Linked DNA regions of Homo sapiens: region 2 is linked to region 1. Evidence: fine-mapped expression QTL. A gene starts in region 1. The other region holds a variant in brackets. All regions are shown on one strand. Distances are between the middles of the regions. Region 1 holds the start of MYO7A (myosin VIIA). Region 2 has its middle 13 kb from the start of PAK1.

Region 1 (2,817 bases):
AGGAAGCTGGTGTGGTGGTGGGGAGAAGCAGGGTTGGGATGACTGAAAGCAGAGTGGACGACTCAATGAAAAACGACTTGGGAGACGGGGTGAGTGCAGTGTGAGGGCAAAGTGAACCGAGATGCCTCGCTTTCTTCATGGGACTGAGAAATGGGTATTGCAAATCGTGTGATCTGCTTAGCATAGTGCCTGGTTCATAGCATGGCTGAACACAATGTAGCTGTCATCCTGGTGTTTGGAGGCCGCCCTGTCCCCCATAACCTGCCCACCTCTCTGCCCCATTCCCACAGCTCACTGCATTTTGTCCCTGCTGCCAGTCGTGTGCCATGGGCTCTCCTGTGCTCCCCCGGGGTCTCATTTCCCCATCCGTGTAGGGCTGACGCCACTGGCCCCGCCCAGCCTGGGAGGATGGAGAGGGGGGACTTGAGGAGTGGCCAGTACTGGGTTTCGGCAGCAGGTGCAAATCCCAGGTGGGGACTGTGTTCCAGGGACTCCTGGACTCCTGTTAGGCCAGCAGGCTAAGGGGCAGACGGCATCCTGGGGTCTTCCTGGGACAGGGTCGTCGGGTCTGAGGGGACCCAGGCCCTAGCAGAAGCTGACTCCTGTCACGGTCACTTCCCAGCGGTGCTCAGCCCGCCTGACGGAAGCAGCTGGGCAGTGGGGCCTGTGACCAGCAGGCGGCGCTGGCGAGCTATAGCGCCCCTTTGGGCCCCCACCCCACCTTCTGGGCAGCTTCCCTGCAGACACCCCAGTTATGGGGGCTAGGGACCCAAAAGAGACATCCTTCTGCCACCCAGAGCTGCCCTGGCGAGGTGCACTATGGGGCCGCCGACAGCTGCGTGGCTGCCGAGGGCGGAAAGGAGAAACTGTCATGTCCCGATAGGGCCGCGCGAGGTCTCCATCCTCGACAACGCTAATAACAAAGACGTGTGCTCCTCTTTGCTTGGTTCCCCCCACTCCTTTAAATCACAGATTTCACTTCAGTTTATCTGTGTCGCTGTCACACGTGGGGTGGCTCCCAGTCAGCTGGTTTGGCAAAGTTTCTGGATGATTACGGAATAACATGTGTCCCCAACCCGCAGAGCAGGTTGTGGGGGCAATGTTGCATTGACCAGCGTCAGAGAACACACATCAGAGGCAAGGGTGGGTGTGCAGGAGGGAGAAGGCGCAGAAGGCAGGGCTTTAGCTCAGCACTCTCCCTCCTGCCATGCTCTGCCTGACCGTTCCCTCTCTGAGTCCCAAACAGCCAGGTAGAGGAGGAAGAAATGGGGCTGAGACCCCAGCACATCAGTGATTAAGTCAGGATCAGGTGCGGTTTCCTGCTCAGGTGCTGAGACAGCAGGCGGTGTCCTGCAAACAACAGGAGGCACCTGAAGCTAGCCTGGGGGGCCCACGCCCAGGTGCGGTGCATTCAGCAGCACAGCCAGAGACAGACCCCAATGACCCCGCCTCCCTGTCGGCAGCCAGTGCTCTGCACAGAGCCCTGAGCAGCCTCTGGACATTAGTCCCAGCCCCAGCACGGCCCGTCCCCCACGCTGATGTCACCGCACCCAGACCTTGGAGGCCCCCTCCGGCTCCGCCTCCTGGGAGAAGGCTCTGGAGTGAGGAGGGGAGGGCAGCAGTGCTGGCTGGACAGCTGCTCTGGGCAGGAGAGAGAGGGAGAGACAAGAGACACACACAGAGAGACGGCGAGGAAGGGAAAGACCCAGAGGGACGCCTAGAACGAGACTTGGAGCCAGACAGAGGAAGAGGGGACGTGTGTTTGCAGACTGGCTGGGCCCGTGACCCAGCTTCCTGAGTCCTCCGTGCAGGTGGCAGCTGTACCAGGCTGGCAGGTCACTGAGAGTGGGCAGCTGGGCCCCAGGTAAGGATGGGCTGCCCACTGTCCTGGGCATTGGGAGGGGTTTGGATGTGGAGGAGTCATGGACTTGAGCTACCTCTAGAGCCTCTGCCCCACAGCCACTTGCTCCTGGGACTGGGCTTCCTGCCACCCTTGAGGGCTCAGCCACCACAGCCACTGAATGAAACTGTCCCGAGCCTGGGAAGATGGATGTGTGTCCCCTGGAGGAGGGAAGAGCCAAGGAGCATGTTGTCCATCGAATCTTCTCTGAGCTGGGGCTGGGGTTAGTGGCATCCTGGGGCCAGGGGAATAGACATGCTGTGGTGGCAGAGAGAAGAGTCCGTTCTCTCTGTCTCCTTTGCTTTCTCTCTGACACTCTTTATCTCCGTTTTTGGATAAGTCACTTCCTTCCTCTATGCCCCAAATATCCCATCTGTGAAATGGGAGTATGAAGCCCCAACAGCCAGGGTTGTAGTGGGGAAGAGGTAAAATCAGGTATAGACATAGAAATACAAATACAGTCTATGCCCCCTGTTGTCAGTTGGAAAAGAAATTAACTTGAAGGTGGTCTAGTTCTCATTTTTAGAAATGAAATGTCTGTCTGGTCATTTTAAAATGTGGCCCTTAAATTTCACGCCCTCACCACTCTCCCCCATCCCTTGGAGCCCCATGTCTCTAGTGAAAGCACTGGCTCTGCCCCCAGCCCTCATGGCTCATGCTGGCATAGGGCGCCTGCTCCACAGCCTGGGCACCATCTTCAGACAAGTGCCCGGTGGCAACTGCCTGCTGGCCCTGTTGAATCCACATCTCCACCAGGCATCCAGACTAGTTCAGGTCTCTGGAAGGACTGTGGGTTTGCTGTGTCCCAGAGCTCCAGGGCAGGGGTCAGGGCTCGGATGTCGGGCAGTGTCATGGGCAGAGGATCGAATGCCCCGGCGGCTCTGAATGGGCCCTTGTGAAAAATTGATGCGCATTCT
Region 2 (2,995 bases), 360 kb after region 1:
CCTCATAAATGTATATACCTACTATATACCCACAAAAATTTTAAAATAAAAAAAAATTTTTTTTTTGAGACAAAGTTTCACACTTGTTGCCCAGGCTGGAGTGCAATGGCGCAATCTCAGCTCACTGCAACCTCTGCCTCCTGGGTTCAAGCAATTCTCCTGCCTCAGCCTCCCGAGTAGCTGAGATTACAGGCGTCTGCCACCTCACCTGGTGAATTTTGTATTTTTAGTAGAGATGGGGTTTCACCATGTTGGTCAGGCTGATCTTGAACTCCTGACCTCAGGTGACCCACCCACCTTGGTCTCCCAAAGTGCTGGGATTACAGGCGTGAGCCACCATGCCTGGCCTAAACTTCTTAATGTAAAATTAAAATTTTAAAAAGGAGTTATCTAGAGCAGCAGCAGCATTCTGATTCTTCGGTTGCAACTATAATAGTGTGTTCTCGAACATCGGTAGTTCCGTCGATGGTTTTTTGATTCTCCACCTCTCTTACGGTAAAAGAGATGGCAGCTCCAGTGGCCAGCCAGTTTTGCAGTATTATTCTGGGGATTATTCCTGGAGGTCTAGCTTACAGCTCACTCCTCCTAACTTTGCAACAACTTCATAAACATCTCATTTCCTTTTAAATCCTCTTCCATTTACCATAGCTAGAGTGATTTCTGTTTTCTGCACTTGAAGCTTGACTGATACACACCCCTTTTTCTTGAGCTGGTTTAAAAAGGTTCCTGTTCCTTGCAGCCAAGTGATCCTAGTCTAAGATATCGGTGGGGGTATTAAAAGTTGACTATTGCAGGCCGGCCATGTGGCTCATGCCTGTAATCCTAGCACTTTGGGAGGCTGAGATGGGAAGATTCCTTGAGCAGCCTAGGAGTTCAAGACCAGCCTGGGCAACATAGCAAGATCCCATCTCAAAAAAAAAAGTTGACAATTGCAGAGGAGGAGGTGGGGCAAGATGGCTGAATAAAAGCCTCTACTAATTGTCCTCCCCACAGGAACACCAAATTGAACAACTATTCACACAAAAAAATCACCTTCATAACAACCAAAAATCAGGTGAGTAATCATAGTACCTGGTTTTAACTTCATATTACTTAAAGAGCACATAAAAGGGTAGAAAAAACCATCTTGAATTGCAGACACCACCCCTCTTCCATCCCCTGGCAGTGGCCACATGGCATGGAGAGAGAATCTATGTGTTTGGGGGAGGGAAAGCACAGTGATTGTGGCACACTTTGCATTGGAACTCACTGCCACCCTGTCACAGTGGGAAGCAACACCATCCAAAACTCAGCCAGAACCCATGGAAGCATGGAAGAGCATTTAGACCAGCCCTATCTGGGTGGG[G/A]AATTGTCTATCCCAGTAGCTGAGACCTGAGTTCCAGCAAGCCTCATCATTGTGGGCTAAAATGCTCTGGGGTTCTAAGTAAACTTGAGAGGCAGTCTAAGCCACAGGACTGCAATTCCTCGGCAAGTCCGGGTGCTGTTCCAGGATCAGAGCCAGTGGACTTAGGGGTTATGTGACCTAGTGAGACACTGGCCAGGGTAACCAAGGAAATGCTTGCACCACCTCTCCCACAGCACCAGGCAGCACAGCTCATGGCTCCAGGAGAGACTCCTTCCTTCCACCTGAGGAGAGGAGAGGGAAAAGTAAAGAGGACTTTGTCTTGCAACTTAGATACTTGCTCAGCCACAGTAGGATAGGGCAACAGGTAGAATCCTGAGGACCCCATTCGAGGCCCTAGCTCCTGGATGACATTTCTATACACACTCTGGGCCAGAAGGGAACATGCTGCCTTGAGGAAAAGAACCCACTAATAGCAGAATTTGTCATCATCTGCTGACTATACAGTCCTTGGGTCCTGAATAAACAGCAGGGATAGCCAGGTGGTACTCACCATGGGCCCTGGGTGAGAGATTCAGAGATGTGCTGGCTTCAGGTGTAAACCCAGCACATTCCCAGCTATGGTAGCCACAGGGAGGGACTCCTTCTGCTTGAGAAAAAAGTAGAGAGGACTTTGTCTTGCAGTTAGGTACCAGCTCAGCCACAGTAGGGTAGAGCACCAAGCAGGCTCTTGGGGTTCCTGATTCCAGGCCTTGGCTTGTGGATGGCATATCTGGACCTTCCCTGGGACCAGGGCCCTAAAGGGAGAGTCCCAGGCCCAGCAGCATTCACCACAAGTTGACTGAAGAGCCTTGGGTCTTGAGTGAACATTGGTGGTAGCCAGGCAGTACTTGCTGTGGGCCTGGGGCATGGTGGCCACAGGGAGAGATTCTTCTGCAAAGGGAGGGAAGAGTATGAAGAACTTTATCTTGTGTCTTGGGTACCAGCTCAGTCACAGTAGAATAGAGCACCAGGTAGATCCCTAAGGTTTCTGACTCTAGGCCTGGCTCCTGGACGGCATCTCTGAACCCACCTGGAGTCAGGGGAACTCACTGCCCTGAAGAGAAGGACACAAGCCTGGCTGGCTTCTATTGTAGAGCCCTAGGGCCTTGAGTGAACATAGGAAGTACCAGGCAGTAGTTACTGTGGCTCTTGGGCAAGACCCAGTTATGTACTGGCTTTAGGTCTGACTCAGTGCAGTCCCAATGGTAGTAGTCACAGAGGTGCTTGTATCACTCCTCTTCCAGCTCCAGGTGGCTCAGCATACAGAGAGAGACTTTATGTGTTTGGGAGAAAGTAAAGGAAGGGAGCAAGAGTCTCTACTTGGTAATCTGGATAATGCTTCTGCATCTTATCGAAGACCACCAAGGCACTACCTCTATGAGTCTGTAAGAGCCATAGTGTTACTGGGCTTGGGGTTGCCCCTAAGGCAAATATGGCTGTAGTGATTTAAAAAAAAACTTGGATCACAACACCCGAGTCCCTTCAAATACCTGGAAAGCCTTTCCAGTACAGGTGCAAACAAGCCCAAACTGTGAAGACCACAATAAATGCTTAATTCTTCAATGCCCAGACACCAATGGACATCCACAAGCATCAAGACCATCTATGAAA

What was found. PIP is the estimated chance that this variant, and not a neighbour inherited with it, causes the effect. A credible set is the group of variants that fine-mapping cannot tell apart.
Region 2: its variant is the best candidate, but not a certain one, in a credible set for the expression of MYO7A in whole blood (INTERVAL, PIP 0.50).

Annotation. Positions count from the first base shown.
Region 1 is chr11:77,126,626-77,129,442 of GRCh38, forward strand. It overlaps MYO7A (myosin VIIA), which reads left to right and starts at 1,621. Exons shown (of 49, transcript NM_000260.4): 1 at 1,621-1,864. RefSeq lists enhancers at 307-1,029, 1,030-1,753, 2,476-2,817.
Region 2 is chr11:77,485,427-77,488,421 of GRCh38, forward strand. It overlaps a transcript of PAK1 not described here. Among named protein-coding and RNA genes, the nearest start is that of PAK1, 13 kb to the left of the region's middle. The variant G/A (reference allele first, on the strand shown) is at 1,346.